4 linked regions of the Homo sapiens genome follow. Changing the gene in region 1 together with any one later gene gives a genetic interaction. Each region holds a gene or a part of one and is shown on either strand. Other genes may lie near its edges.

Region 1 (5,436 bases):
TTGGAATTAAAATGTAATATTCATTCACACATTTACCTCAGTTTCCTGCCTGCTCTTTGAGTAATTTGGAACATAAAATAACATTTATCATCATTAGTTTATCTATGGCAAGAAATTTGACAAAGGAATGCAAAACTTCTTAAGAGAAAATTTTCTTCTGCTTGCAAGATATAGAAATAAACAGGCCTGAAAGCATCAGAAAATGGATTCTCCAAGAAATGCCATTTAAGTCACTTTCTCCAAGAGCATGAAGACCTGACAACTCTCAGAGAAAGTTTATTTCAGGAAGACATGTGTGACATGATACCCTTGGCATTCTCAACTGGGTAGAAAACCGCTGGCTGACTACTACTGGGTATTATTTTTGATATGTGTACTTGTCTCATTCAACTGAAAGTAACATTACACCAATCACTTGACCCTTCTACTCAGCTAAAACAAAACACACAGAAAAGAAGGGACAGCTTTTGGGTTGAATTTCTCAATAAGTGCAAGGGATACCAGGTAACCAGAATAAAGCTACTTTGTAACCGTTACCTCTAACATTACAATAGCTAAATGTTGATAGCAAAAAAGGAGAAATAGGAATGAAAGCATCTGCCATTACTGCAATTTGTATTAGCTATCCTGTTCACTTGTGTGACCCACCTCTTCTAAGGGGAAGCTACGGTATTTTATCAGTAATCCTAGTCAATCAGCTGAAATAGGCATTAAACAGAAACAGAATTTGAAAAACCATCCCTGTGTATTTAGCAAATATGCATCTTAAATTTAGGGCCCAAATGCTCACAGATTTCCACTAGTGCCATATGGAAAAAACTAACACACTAATGCCAAAGGGAACTATTTTGTTCAATGCTTTGTTTGGATTTTGGGGGTTTGGTTCCATAACCATCCTGGTGACATTCCTTTGAAAATGGTTTAACAGAAAATATTCTACTATACATTGCTCAGTACTGAAGGAAAGGGGACAGTGCAATCTAAGAGTCCAGGGAGGTGGCAAAGACCACCAGTTCCAACCCTGGAGGTATTCGCTCATGCCCCAGGACCAGCAACATTAGACAGGTAAAGTTTATCTAGAGAGGACAACATGAAGCCCACTGTTACCCATGCTGGAGAGCTCACTGCTGCCTGGTGCTTGACTACTAAATATTTTTTAAAAATTGCATTTCAATCATTTAACTAAGCAGTTAAAATCAGAATTACCTAATTTAAACGTTTCCCCTGGAAGGCACTTCTTTACCCTGTATATATTTTCCTCTATTAAACAAATAATGCATGCATGTTTAGCAAAATATACAGGGACACATAAACAGACTAGTAATTACTTAGCGTAGTGCTTTCTGATTCCAGATTACTTCTTATCTTAACTTCATTTTTATTTCTTTTCTTCATTCTTCCGTTTCAAATTCTGACTTCTTTCATCTTCCCCACTTCACACAAATTGCTCAATATTCTACAAGTGGGACTTCTGGTCTGATAATTAGCATGCATTCTTTCTTTTATTTTTTCAAATTTCAGCTTCACTTATTCCTGAGCTTCAAATACTCATTTATAAAACTTGTCAAATGACGACTTCCGCATTTTCCTTCTTCAACATTAACCTTAATAGAAAAAGAACAGGATGAAGAATATTTTAAAACTCCAGGATAAAATCCAGTGCCAAAACTGAAACTAGAAAAAAAAAATCCCTTTGTTGATTTGGATTAAAAAAAAAAAAAAAGAAACTAGAATATGCAGCTCAAAAAACTGAAAACTACATAGTTTTCTGCTGGTTCTAGAATATATGGTAATCTCATTTCTCTACTCCAAATAGACTTATCATGCTTAAGTTGAATGTGAAGTGCGCCACTGAACATTTACTGTTCATTTAACATTTTAAGAACTATTAGTTACATTTCACACTTCTTATTATATTCAATAGAAAATAGGTTAAGTGTCAAAAGCACACCTCTAGTCAAAAAGTGACACATTAATACATAAGTGCATGAAAGGAAAGCACGGACAATTCATTTGTACAATGACAAACGCTCAGGGTTGAAGAGGTTTACAGTATTGTGACTTGTCTAGATAGGATAAAGAAACGTATTTAGCGTCACACATTTTTGTACTGTATTTAAAGAGCTCTGCAGAAAGACGGTGTCAGGGAACCTGACAATTTGGAGCTTAAGTGTAACCCACCCCCTGGAAAAGCTGCTCTAGTGAGATTTTATAGTATGAATCATAAAAAGACAAAATCAAGTCAACCACCTACAATATGCCAGTAGCTATGAAGGAAAGCAGAACAAACTTGAATCCAACACTGGTATTTTCAAAGAGTTTTGTTGTACATTTTCCCCCTCAATTTAGAAAATATTAAGTCTTCTGGATGTCCAAAGGAGAAATACTACTTTAAAAGGTGGCACTATTTAAATTACAGCTCACCTCCTCAAATAATTAAAAAGATTGAATTTAGTTGATCTGTAAATGTCTGTTGAACATACTAAACAAAATAAAATACTGCCTACATAAAACATGCTAGTTTTTCTTGTTATCCTACATTTCACTTTGATGATCTTTCATTTTATTGTCAATTACTTCCTCTCCTGGTTTTTCCTCCTGAAAAAAATGTAAGGCTTTGTTTAAAAAAATTGCAAGTCTTTATACCTATCTGGGCATAAAGACAACCATCGTTAATCTGGCAAGTGCTGTGATGTCTTTCCTAACAAAAGGATAATTTCCAGTCTAGTTTTAGAGTCAATTATTGTTTATTTAATCCGAAAATTTTTAAATATGTTTTTATTTAAGGGAGTTACAGTAATTGGCTTTCTTTAAATCTCCATCACTAAAATGCAATGGGAAATGTTTTCTGGCAGCACAAATGTAATCATGGAATCAGAATGCCCAAGCAGGTTTCCTTAGGGCCTCCTAAAACTTCGATACAGACAGGGCACTTAGATGCAGAAGATACAAGAATAGAGGCCATAGCTCTAGCTATCACAACTGTTTTCAATGTGGATACCTTCCTGCTGTTACTTCATTACCCCTTCCTAACCTGGTTCCTTCTCTTATAGTCTAAGAACAAAACCATTACTAAATTATTATAAATATTAGATTTAATTCAACTCAGCTAAGTTCAAGTGGCTACTTTATAAAACCAGAAGATCAACTCTTGGGCTAATGTTATGTACATTTAGTTAAGAGACCCTAGTTAGAAATAAACAGAAACTTGTCCTATCAACACAATTTTTGTTAAAATGTTTCTAGGGGATACAACTAGAATCCATTTAACATTAAACATGCACAAACTCATTAAGTTGACTGACAAGGCAATATTTTAAAAATTGGGAGGGACAGGGGCAAAGAAAACCTCATTAATCCTGTTATGGAAAGGTCAATGCTCATATCAATATAATAAGGACTATATTTTTTTCTGGCAGCCAAACTGTCTACCAGAAGAGTAAATGGATAAGTAAATCCTCAAAAACTGGAGAATAGTGTCTGGAAAAAAACATCATCTGAAATTAGTTGTAGGCCTGTGCTTATAAAAACTCTCTTGTAAATATAGCACAGACTGTTAAATTTACATTCATAAAACAGTCAGTACTCCCCAACAAAAGCAAATATAAATATCTTTTGACTTTTCAGAAGACTACCTTTTAACCTAATTTCTAACCACAAAAATTAGAGAAAAAGGGGCCCCTTATCCAAACTGTCAGGTAACAATCTATGTTGATAACATCAATCTCAATGTAACCTCCAAAACCCAATTCAAAGCAAAGATTTTGGGGGAATTTCAAGACTGTAATTTGCTACAGTGAAGAACTTCTTTTGGTTTGCAGTTTAAAAACAAGACTAAGTGATTTCAATATCTAATTCTACATAGCCCACACCCCCAATACTAACCTGGGTCAAAACACTTAAAATTCCTAAACATCAGTCACCATGCCTTGTTAAAAAAACAGTCGCATATGTAAAAACACTGATCAACATAAAATGCTAAGGCTCAAGAAATATACACAGCTGTAGCTCTGCCCTTGTCCTGGGCAAAATAGCTATGAAAGCATTAATATTTACCACCTACGTTCGGATTTTATTGTAGAGAAAGGAGGAAAAAACGCTATGTAAGGCAAATCCCATTAACACTTCCCCCACCACCTGAATTCCTTTTCAACCTTTTGGCAAAACCAGTAGTACTTACCTTATAAAATCACCTGTAATGTCAGCTTGAAAATGTCACGTTCTAGTTCCAGACAATATCCACAATATTAAAGCATTCTTGTTTAAAACCAAGAAAAAAATATTTCAACCGGGTTTCAAGAGACTGATAAACCTAACCAGACTCACAATACAAAACAATTTCCTCCTATTTGACAATTCAATCCTTTTTTAAAGGAAATTTGGTGAGATGGCTGCAATTCTTTAGAAAGAAGTAGATTCAGAGATGTTTCAGTTTTGAAAATTAGAATTTAGAGTTTAGGAGCTAAAACCAAGGAATATAAAAAGACATCCCAAGATTCAGCAGAAGATGAGAAAAACTGCAGAATTTGAAAAGCAGTTTGATGGGTTGGTGTCCAGATGCTGCTATTCATCTCTAATGATAAAGATTACGTGCCTATGTTGCAATCACATCGGCTTTACAAAAATAATAGCCAGTATTCTATCAGAGTATCTGCTGGGTCAAAACATTTTCTTTAACATCTGGTCCATACATCAGTGTCTCCTTAGTTTCTGGATTCCTTTAGTAAAGACTCACTCGTAGAAACTCATTACAATATTGAGAGGCTCAGAACATTACACTGCGTGCAAGACCAACATACAAATCTCACACAACCTATACGCTGTGACCATTATTGGGCTCTAAAGATTACCCTGCACTTCATCAACTTTTTATTCAACTTCTTGTAATTGTGACTTAAAGGCCAGGAGTGCCTCTTTTTACAAAGAAATGGTGCTAGTCAACCCCTTTACAAAATGCAAGCAATTTTGGGGGAAGAGTCTTGAATCCGGAGATGAAAACGAGATCTTACTTTTGAAAGTGGTTTGGCCAGATCAGGTTAAGCCTGCTAATTAGACCCCTATAGACAGATTTTAGTGTTAATCTATTACCTTTGAGAGGGGGGAAAAAATAAATCCCACAGACCAACGAGGGATGAGGGACACACCAGTTCTTTAAATGTCATTATATTCACCCAAATGTATTCTATTGAGTGATCAAACTGAGAATAATTTATCCCACACACCCAACCTTAAAGGGGAGGGACACAACAACAAACTCCTACAGTCACTGGAAAAGGTGGGGCACAGAGGGGTGGGGTTGTCTGGATTAGAGACAGATAAATAAGGGAGAATTCCACTGATTTGAAGAGATTAGTGATTTACATTAAGACCCAGTTCAGAAGCCTGGAGTTGAATAACACTCATTTTTCTGGCTCCAGAGAAGCATCATTTACACCA
Region 2 (2,672 bases), on another chromosome or scaffold:
GGATCAGGTGGATCACCTGCCGGATCTGAGACTCAGGGATGGCTCTGTCAGCTGTGCTGACGTCTATCACTGTTTCCAGCAGCCTCAACACCAAGTCTGGCTGTCGGAAGAGGGCCCTGTTACTCCCCAGGCAGGCTACCCACTCGTCCGAGAAGGCCCACTTCTTCTCAGAGGCAAAAATGTAGCACACTTCCATATGGCGGTCCATCTTCTGCTGGATGACGGCCATGGCAATGGAAGCTGTGATATCCTCCAAGGCCCTGTTCTTCAGCACCGTGCTCGTTTTCCTCAGGAAGTCCCTGACACACTCCGCCAGCTCAGAGACCACCTGCCTGTCCTCCTTGGACAGGCTGGTGCGGTTCAGGTAGAGCGTCGCGTTCTGGCTGAAGGAAGTCAGACTGTCGCACAGCCGGTAGCTGTCGTAACTTGTCCCCTGGCTGCTGCGGAGCACGGCCTGCAACTCCTCCCCCCACTCCCGCAGCAGGTGGTGCAGGAACTCGCAGCCCACGAAAATGGTCTCACTGGGGAGTTTGGCCAGCGAGGTCAGGCTGACATCCCGTTCTGCCTCCTTCACCTTCTCTGCCAGCGCCTGCTGGTGGTAGGGATTCTGGGTGTCCGAGTTCCACACAGAGATCACCGTGGCCAGTTTGTCCAGATACACGGTTGCAGACACCTCCTGGGGGTCGTCCTCTGTCAGCGCAAACACAGTCAGCATGTCAGCCAGGTTGGCCAGCGCACAGCACTTCCTCCCCGGGCCCAGGATCCGACTCTGGATCTGTGTCAGCCCGCGGAGCAGCATGGCCAACAGGGGCATGGTGGGGCACGCGTCTGGGTCTGACCTAAGCCTCTTTGGAGGATGGGGGAACTCATCTAAGGCAGGCAGGTACTTATGGGCCATTGCACTAAACTGGGAGAGCAGGGGGTCCTGCGGGTGACCCTTGTGCTTCATCACCTCCCACCAGACGTCCAGGAAGAAGGCCACGTCTTCGGCAGAAGTGTCAACGGTCACATGTTCCAGAAAGCGCTCTAGTTCTGCATGGCAGATGGTGGTGGGCAGGGCCATCAGGAGCTGGATAAAGAGTCCAGAAGCTTCCAGGGATTTGAGCAGCTCGAAGAGGATGGTGTGGTTGATGGTGGGGATCATGTTGCCCACCGAGAAGAACAGGTCTTCCTGCCACCGTGTCTCTGTGTCGGACGGGGTCACGGGGTGCGGCTGCAGAACCTTGGCCCAGATGATGATCAGGGCTTTCTTCTTCCAGGCAAAGGGCTGGGAGTGTGCTGCAGCCGAGGAGATCTCCCTTAAGGCCTCCACGATGGGCCGTCCAACACGTTCCCAGTCAGACTTTGTTAATTCTGCCAGTGCCTTAGGGTGGAACAGCTGCTCGGCCAGCAAGAAGCCTCCATGCAGAATAGTCATTTCTTCACAGATGTTCAAGGGTCCTGCACACAGACAAGCCAAATAAGACAGTATAGTGAAAATGTTTCCAGATGGCCACTGCTGTTAGTAGGCTGTCATGGTTTGAGATGACAAGGGTTTTAAAGGACATCAGCGGACGGGGAGAAGGGATGACTACAAGAGCCACTGCACAGCTGGAGTCAGAAGGACTTGGCCGAGGAATCCAGAATGGCTTCCGAGCTCTCCAGCCTGGGAACTGGGAGGCCACCAGGTGACATCACATACAGGGAATGGAGGAGAATCAGAGCAGGTGTGAGGAAAGATGAGTTCAGCTTTGGCCATCAAGGTACAGATGTCCTCCAGCAACGGAAATGCCAGGTGGAAGTTCAGGAGGGAAGTAAGCTGGGAAATGTGATTCTGAGAGGTATCTGCCCAGAGGGGATCACCGGAACCAAGACGGTGAATGAGATCCTTCAGGAAAAGTGTGTGAAAAGAAAAAGCTGGGCTGCTGAGGCGAGACCCTCCAGCAAAGGCTGGGCCAGCAGAGGATGTGGGGAGAGGGGTTTAGAAATAGGAGGACAGTACAAACTACAGGGGCCACTGAGCATGTACCACAGGACATGACAGCTGAGCTTCTCATGACAGATGAAGGGAGCATAGCCACAGGGTAATGGGCACAGAGCAATCACACAGCCACAGGGTAACAGGCACAGCAGCAATCACACGGCCACAGGATAATGGGCACAGAGCAATCACACAGCCACAGGGTAATGGGCACAGAGCAATCACACAGCCACAGGGTAATGGGCACAGCAGCAATCACACAGCCACAGGATAATGGGCACAGCAGCAATCACACAGCCACAGGGTAATGGGCACAGAAGCAATCACACGGCTACAGGATAATGGGCACAGAGCAATCACACAGCCACAGGATAATGGGCACAGAGCAATCACACGGCCACAGGATAATGGGCACAGAGCAATCACACGGCCACAGGGTAATGGGCACAGCAGCAATCACACGGCCACAGGGTAATGGGCACAGAGCAATCACACGGCCACAGGATAATGGGCACAGAGCAATCACACGGCCACAGGATAATGGGCACAGAGCAATCACACGGCCACAGGATAATGGGCACAGAGCAATCACACGGCCACAGGGTAATGGGCACAGAGCAATCACACGGCCACAGGGTAATGGGCACAGAGCAATCACACGGCCACAGGATAATGGGCACAGAGCAATCACACGGCCACAGGGTAATGGGCA
Region 3 (3,500 bases), on another chromosome or scaffold:
GTACAGGAGAGGCTCTGGTTCACAGGGCTCTGTGCAGCATTTCTGTGGGCACTTCTAGTGGAGGGGCTGGAGGGTCTGCCAGCCTGGAGGACTCCGCCCACCCAACAGCACCTGCAGCAAGAGGACCCTCTGTGGGCTTTGTGTTGGGTTATTCAGGCAGACAATCTGAAAATGGTCTGCAGAGATCCCTGAGTAAAGGCCTAAGTTTGGGCTCAATTTGAGAAGAATGGAGAACAAAGAAAAATTAGCCAAATAACATTCACAAGATAAAATAAGCATAAAGGCAAAGAGACTAATTAAATGCTGATTATAATACTCAAAAGCGAGGCTCAACGACCTGGCCAATGAGTAGTATCAACAGGCTTGGAAGTAAAGAAGCAGATTAAAGACGAAATGTTCCATTAACAAAAGCATCATGATCTAGCATCAGGCAGGCTGCTAGAAAACTCCACGGGAAAGGAAGGGCCAGGGAAATACTGACAAGAAAGAGGAAGGGTGAAAAATTAACCTTAAAAGATAATTAAATGTACCATGAAGATTTAAGAACTAAAATAGTTTGGTGCTGGAGAAGGAGAGAATGTCCATAAGTAGATCAGAAAACATGTGGGAATTCAGTGCATGGTAAAGGTGGCACTGCAAGCAGGGAAAATAACAAATATTCAAAAACAGCAGTGGGAAGATGTGGCTAACCGAGGCCCCCTTATTCTTCCCACCAAAATAAATTCCAGGAGCCTCAAAGAATTACAAGTAAAAAATGGAACCATGAAAGTTCTAGAAAAAAGAGATCAATACCTATAATTTTAGAGTGGGAAAGCCTTTCTAAGTAGGACCAAAACTCAGAAGCCATAAGGGAAAGGCCTAACAAATCTGACTACATGAAATTATATGCATCTGAATGAAAAACAAATAGAAAAACCATGACTATGAACAAAGTCAAAAGAAAAGCAACAACCTGGAGGAAGTATTTACAGTACATTTGACACACATTATTTCCTTTCTGTACATAAAAAAATCTAACAGAGAAATGGACAGTTTATAGGGAAAAATAAAAGTGACATATAAAATCGCCTATGAAGGGATGCTTTACCTAACTTAATGAAAGATCAATATATCATTTCTGACCTATGAGATTTGCCAAAGTTAAAAGTTTAATGGTGATGGCAGGTGATGGGGAAAGACACAAAAACTGTTGGTGGAAGCATAGATCAGGGCATTCTTTGCTCATAGTGACCCAAACAGATTCACATATCCCATTGCTAGAAATTTACCCCCACAGAGACTACCAAGAGTTCACCAAGATAGCATGGGCAAAGATGCTTGCTGCAGTGCTGATTCCAACAGCAAAATGCAGAAACAATGACGGTGTCCTTGAGCAAGAAACTGTTTACATAAACGACAGCACGTTCATAAAGTGGAATATTACACAGCTTTGCAAGGGAGCTGGGAGGAGTGAAGGGAGAGGCCCTGTTTCCATTTCATATCCATGGGTACTTGTAGAATCCGTCTACAACTTTAATTTTTGTTTAATGCTTTCTGGGTGGCAGATTTATAGGCCATTTTAGGTTAACTGAAGCAGTCTAGTCTACAAGGACTGAATTTTGGAAAAGAGTTAGCTAAAAAGACGTAGTGCTCTAAATTTAGCATAACTATCACTATAAAAAATGTTTGTACCCTATGCCCCAGCAATTCTACTGCTGGGATTTATCTGATCATAAACTTACTCCTACACAAAGATGCTAACCCCAGCACTGTGCTGGTAATAGCAAGAATAAGAAAAACAGCTAGAAGACCATCAACAGAAAACCAGTTCCATCAGTTATGCTGCATCCACAAGATGCAATTTTCTGCAGCTGCCTTAATGAGGTAGATCTTTATGTGCAGTATGGAAAGGTGGCCAAAAGAGACTAATCAGTGAAAAAAGTCAAGTACGACGTGATCTCAATTTGTATAAATTTTTGAAATGACATTCATATGTAATTCCCAGAAGGAACTTAGGAAAGTATTAACAGCAGTTACTACAGGTGAGGGGACTTGGGGGAAGGAACACATTTTCCATTTTACGTTTCTCTGTACTTCTAAACTTGCAGTTGTTACTTTTATTAAATAATTTTTCAAAAACTCTGAATTCTTTATGAGAACAAGAAAGGCTAAATTCACTACTTCAGATTTTACCTCCTTACTCACCCCTGTGCAAGAAGTAAACAAAGAATAAAAGGATCATTGGGGAAGTTATAGGAAAGGAAGGGACCCAGGGCCAGAGAGCGCCACCTGGGTGGACCGGACATGGTCCCAGCCCTCATCTCCACCCGCCAGTACTGTGTCTTGACTGGCTTCCAGCCTGACAGTTTCACTAGCTCCCCATCCCTCAGAAGACACCTGCACTCTGTTTCCTGGCTCTTCCCTCCTCCCCAGCCACCTCTTCCTGCCTTGGATGTATGCTCAACACCACCAAGCTAGAAGCTGACTCCCATGAGTAGATGCTATTTCTTGGCTTCGTGTCCTTACATGTTTTTCCTATACCAACATTCCTCCTGCCTCCCTTTCCTAATTGAAGACTCATTGTTGGCATCACTCTTACCAAGCCTTCTGACTCCCCCAGGCTTCACGAGGTCTCCTCTCCCTTCCTCCTCTGCCCTTATTCCTCCCTCATTTGCCTATAAACTCAAAGACACGCCTATACTGAAGGTTTGCAGGTTGGATCCTAGCCTCTTCTCATGTTTACAGCTGCAGAACCACTCCATTCCTTTGTGGCTACTGTTTCCTCCACGTGGCTTTTTCTGCTCTTCTGTCTTGTCTTTCTCTTTTTTCCTCTCTCTCTCTGTCTCCTCTCTTTCTTTCTTTCTTCTTTGAGACAGAGTCTATGTCACCCAGGCTGAAGTGTAGCAGTGCGATCATGGCTCACCGTAGCCTCAGCTCCCTGGGTTCAAGCTATCCTCCCATCTCAGCCTGCCCAGGTGCTGGGCTTGCAGACAGACATGAGGCACCGCGCCTGACCCGTGTCTTTCTTACCAGGGGGTTTCTTCCTATGCTTAGTGACCTTGGCCATCCACTCATATATTTAAGAATAAAACACTAAAAGGCTTAGTGGAAGCTCTGCAAATGAGTGATGCTTGTTCATTTTCTCAGAATTAATTGACTAGGCTTTTTTTTTTTCCAATGTCTTTTCTCTTAATTGGTCACGCACCATAGAGAGGGCACTTCCACTCTCTTTGGCTGCCAATCTAGAAGCCAGGTGGGGGAAGGCTCGGGTGGTGTCTCTCTTCAGACTGTGAACTTTCTCTTAATCCCTCTTTTCAGTATGGCTCCCCCTACCTACCCCTGCAGTGTGCCTGGTGTCCCACAGTCAAGGTACTCTCTGGCTTATTCCTTCCTAAGAATAAATCTCGGGAGAGTAACCTTTTAACCATCTGCCAAGTTGGAAGAAGGGTAGTCACCCGGCCGCTTGGAGGGGATGGGAGGTGGGACAGGACTGTGGGGACCTGCTTCTTAAACAGACTTCC
Region 4 (4,191 bases), on another chromosome or scaffold:
TCTGCTTGTTAAAGATTCAGAAATATTAGCAGGGAGGAAGTCCATTTGTTTATTTAACTCAATTAGTAGCAAATCTTATAACAATTTTAAAAAGCAAAGAGCCATGAGTGCTAAGGAAATAAAATGTGTTAATGAAGCTGAAAGGCCAAACTGCCATACAAAGTATTTTCATGAATAAACAATATTTTTTCCTAGACACATTCACCCACAATTGATTTAATTTGGGACCAACACAATAAAACCTTAGGAAAATATTATTCCTGGCTGGGTGCAGTGGCTCACGCCTGTAATCCCAGCATTTTGGGAGGCCTAGGTGGACGGATCACTTGAGCTCAGGAGTTCAAGACCAGCCTGCGCAAGATGGCGAGGCCTCGTCTCTACAAAAATACAAAAATGAGTTGGGGTTGTAGGGAAGTGGAGGTTGCAGTGAGCCAAGATTGAGCCCCTGCATTCCAGCCTAGTTGACAGAGCAAGACTCAGTTTCAAAAAAAGAATAAAAATTTTAAAAAAGAAAAGCCAGGCACGGTGGCTGACGCCTGTAATCCCAGCACTTTGGGAGGCTGAGGCAAGCGGATCACGAGGTCAGGAGTTCGAGACCAGCCTGGCCAATACGTTGAAACCTCATCTCTACTAAAAATACAAAAATTAGCTGGGCGTGCTGGCATGTGCCTGTACTCCCAGCTACTCAGGAGGCTGAGGCAGAAGAATCACTTGAACCCACGAGGTGGGGTTGCAGTGAGCCGAGATCGAGCCACTGCACTCCAGCCTGGGTGACAGAGCAAGACTCGTCATAAAAAAGAAAAAAAAAAAAGGAAAGGAAAATATCGTCTGGGCATGGTGGCTCACACCTGTAATCCCAGCACTTTGGGAGGCCAAGCCGGGTGGACCACGAGGTCACGAGTTCAAGACCAGCCTGGCCAACATGGTGAAACTCCATCTCTACTAAAAATACAAAAATTAGCCAGGCATGGTGGCATGTGCCTGTTGTCCCAGCTACTCGGGAGGCTGAGGCAGGAGAATTGCTTGAACCCAGGAGGCAGAAGTTGCAGTAAGCTGAGCTCTCGCCACTGCACTCCAGCTCGGGTGACAGTATAAGACTTCGTCTCCAAAAAAAAAAAATGTATCTTTCCTAGAGCTAGATAGCTTTCTTTTTTATTTTATTTATTTATTTATTTATTTATTTATTATTATTATTTTTTGAGACAGAGTTTCGCTCTTGTTGCCCAAGCTGGCGCACTCTCGGCTCACTGCAACCTCTGCGCCCGGGTTCAAGCGATTCTCCTGCCTCAGACTCCAGAGTAGCTGGGATTACAAGCGCGCACCAGGGCTAGGTAGCTTTCTATGGAAAATGCAGGGGCTCTCCACACCAGGATTTGAAAACTTAATTTCGGCCGGGCGCCATGGCTCACTCCTGTAATCCCAGCACTTTGGGAGGCCGAGGCAGGCAAATCACCAGGTCAGGAAATAGAGACCATCGTGGCTAATATGGTGAAACCCCGTCTCTATTAAAAATACAAAAAATTAGCCGGGTATGGTGGCCTGCGCCTGTAGTCCCAGCTACCCGGGAGGCTGAGGCAGGAGAATCGCTTGAACCCGGGAAGCGGAGGTTGTAGTGAGCTCAGATCATGCCACTGTACTCCAGCCTGGGTGACAGAGCGAGACTCCATCTTGGAAAAAAAAAAAAAAAAGAAAACTCAATTTCATCCCCACCACTCATTACTGGTTTTGAGACTTTGGCCAAGTTAAGTTCACTAAATCGTGGTAAATCTTTAAAACGGGAGCACTAATCTCTACTTAGGGAGTTGTTATGAGAATTCAAAAAACAAAATGATGTTATCCCCCTGCACAGTATCTGTCACATAGTACATGCTCAAGATATATTAGTCTCAATTTTCTCATTAGTAAAACAAAGTAACGATACTTGATTCACTGGCATGCAACAATAATTAATTTTTGTAAAGCTCCCCAAACGGTATTTAGCACATAGTCGACAGTCAATTAATAAAAAAGTATGATTAAATCTACATCCCCTTTCCCAGTCCTTTTTCTGCCACTAAATGGCTAAATGATGTTGGGCAAATCATAACTTACAGAGCACTCAGTTTTCTGTAAACGAGGGGTGACACCAGACAACTTTTATGATGCTCTGCTTGTTTAAATGTATTACTCAGGACTTTCAAAGTTAGCTTTTGGATGCTACACAGATTTACCTGTAAATCCATTACATCACCATGGTGTCTGATATCACACAATAACTGATGGTCTCCTTCAAACCCTCCATCAGAGTCCAAGTTTCCAAAATCTCCAATAGACCACAGTGAAATATAATTTTCCTGTAAAACAGAAAGTTTTGTCTTGAGATGACATAAACGTCAACTCTCGGAAAATAAAAGTTGTGCTCCCGTCCGGAAATGTTGCTCCAAAACATCTCAAATGGTATGGTGAGTTTAAAACACAACGAGATACGAGGCTCAGGCATGCCATCACCGGCTCTGAGCTACGGAGCAACCGCGCCTGAGACAGGGGTCCGGGGGACCTAAAAGTGCGAGAAGAACCAGAAGGTGGGAGTTGGCGCGCGGAAGGCCAGGGGTCAGCTCAACCGGAGAGAGGGAGGAGGTAGGGGCTCGTCCCTATCAGCGGCGATACCTCATTGTCCCAAGATCCTGTAGCGAACGTCTCCGCGGTCTGTAAACTTCCCGGAGGCAGCGGTCGCCAGCGGGTTTTGCTGATTTTCTGGGACACAAACTTCGCATAAATTTCCTCCATGCCGAAAGCGGCCGCAGCAGGTACTGCAAAAAGCAAGCACAGTACGCGCCTCTCAGCACCGCCTCTTCCCGCGGAACCCTGATTGGATGGGACTTTAGGACGGAGACGGTGGCTGCAGAGAGTCAATTCTCGTCGATAGCCAGTGTGGGCACAGTCAGTACCTAGACTGAGAGGCCCACCCATCTCACAGAGCAGCTCTGAGCAAAGGCAAGAGCGCTTTGGCCTTTGAGCAGTAGGACTTGCTCCTAATCTGCAATGTCAGTATTTTCTTGTGTTCAATAATTGTGCAGTGTAAAATTTAAGTGCAAAAACAGAACAAAAACAATGCAGTAGAAACCACCTTGAAACCACACCTAAGCAGTTGCAGGTCACTGCGCATAGAAAACGATTCAAAAATCCTTAAATACTCGTGGAAGTACCTCGAATAAAGTGCCAACCTACTATCCCAAACCTCTCCCTCTTGTCTCCCAAACAAATACTTTGCTTCAAAGTTAATACACACTGTCAGAGCCTGGAGTTGGAATTCTGAAAGACTCCAGTTTTAGTTTTGATGCCAATTGCCTAGCTTTGATCAATTCAATTACGTGCATGATTAAGAATGAAGTTTGTGATACCTATTGTCAACGGCCCAGGAATCAGTTTTCTAGGTTCCTTCTGTGCTTTTGGTTACACCTATAATATTCTTCCCTTCCTCTTTACTCCTCAGAATCCTGCCTATCCTTCAAGGATCTGTTCTTTCCTTTACCATTTCCTGACGACCCCAGCCAATGTTGATCTAAATCAACACCATTTTTTTTCTTTTTTAAGACAGGGTCTCTGTGGCCCAAGCTGGAGTGCAGTGGTACAATCTCAGCTCACTGCAACCTCTGCCTCCGCCTCCCAGGTTCAAGTGATTCTCCCACCTCAGCTTCCAGGGTAGCTGGGACTACAGGTGTGCGCCACCATGCCTGGCTAATTTTTTTTTTTTTTTTTTGGAGAGACGGGATTTCACCATATTGGCCAGGCTGGTCTCGAACTCTTGACCTCAGGTGATCCAACTGCCTTGTCCTCCCAAAGTGCTGGGATTACAGGCGTGAGCTAGCATTTGATATCTAGACCACTAATGACATATATTTTGGATATATCTTATGTTAGTTTTCTTTAGATGCATATTCCTCCCCCATTAGAATGTAAATCCTACTGAATACAAGAGATATGACTTATTCAACTAAAAAATGAAGCTCTTTTACACTATAGGTATTCATAACTGTATGTTGGTTATTTCTTTAAAAAGGGCCATTATGCTACTGTTGTTTTTATGTGATATTGGTAGTCCTACTTCACAGGGACAGTTTACGGAAGCACTGCATGTAAATGCAATCCATCTGGGTCAGCTTTAGAGTTACCAGTTTCCTATCAAGGATTTGACTTTTTTCTTTTCTCCAA

What was found. A genetic interaction does not mean that the proteins touch.
Region 2: changes in TRA2B (region 1) and GEMIN4 together harm fitness less than expected from each alone (positive genetic interaction), as found in Homo sapiens cells (one large-scale study listed by BioGRID).
Region 3: changes in TRA2B (region 1) and MED9 together harm fitness less than expected from each alone (positive genetic interaction), as found in Homo sapiens cells (one large-scale study listed by BioGRID).
Region 4: changes in TRA2B (region 1) and NUP43 together harm fitness more than expected from each alone (negative genetic interaction), as found in Homo sapiens cells (one large-scale study listed by BioGRID).

What each region holds. Positions count from the first base shown.
Region 1 is NC_000003.12:185,930,249-185,935,684, forward strand, and holds part of TRA2B (transformer-2 protein homolog beta), read right to left. Parts: intron 1,513-5,436; exon of another isoform or gene 1,329-1,512; intron 1-1,328. UniProt on the Homo sapiens protein: Sequence-specific RNA-binding protein which participates in the control of pre-mRNA splicing. Can either activate or suppress exon inclusion. Acts additively with RBMX to promote exon 7 inclusion of the survival motor neuron SMN2.
Region 2 is NC_000017.11:746,593-749,264, forward strand, and holds part of GEMIN4 (gem-associated protein 4), read right to left. Parts: intron 1,441-2,672; coding exon 1-1,440. UniProt on the Homo sapiens protein: The SMN complex catalyzes the assembly of small nuclear ribonucleoproteins (snRNPs), the building blocks of the spliceosome, and thereby plays an important role in the splicing of cellular pre-mRNAs.
Region 3 is NC_000017.11:17,480,000-17,483,499, reverse strand, and holds part of MED9 (mediator of RNA polymerase II transcription subunit 9), read right to left. Parts: intron 1-3,500.
Region 4 is NC_000006.12:149,743,730-149,747,920, forward strand, and holds the start of NUP43 (nucleoporin Nup43), read right to left. Parts: upstream 2,801-4,191; 5' UTR 2,767-2,800; coding exon 2,647-2,766; intron 2,334-2,646; coding exon 2,211-2,333; intron 1-2,210. UniProt on the Homo sapiens protein: Component of the Nup107-160 subcomplex of the nuclear pore complex (NPC). The Nup107-160 subcomplex is required for the assembly of a functional NPC.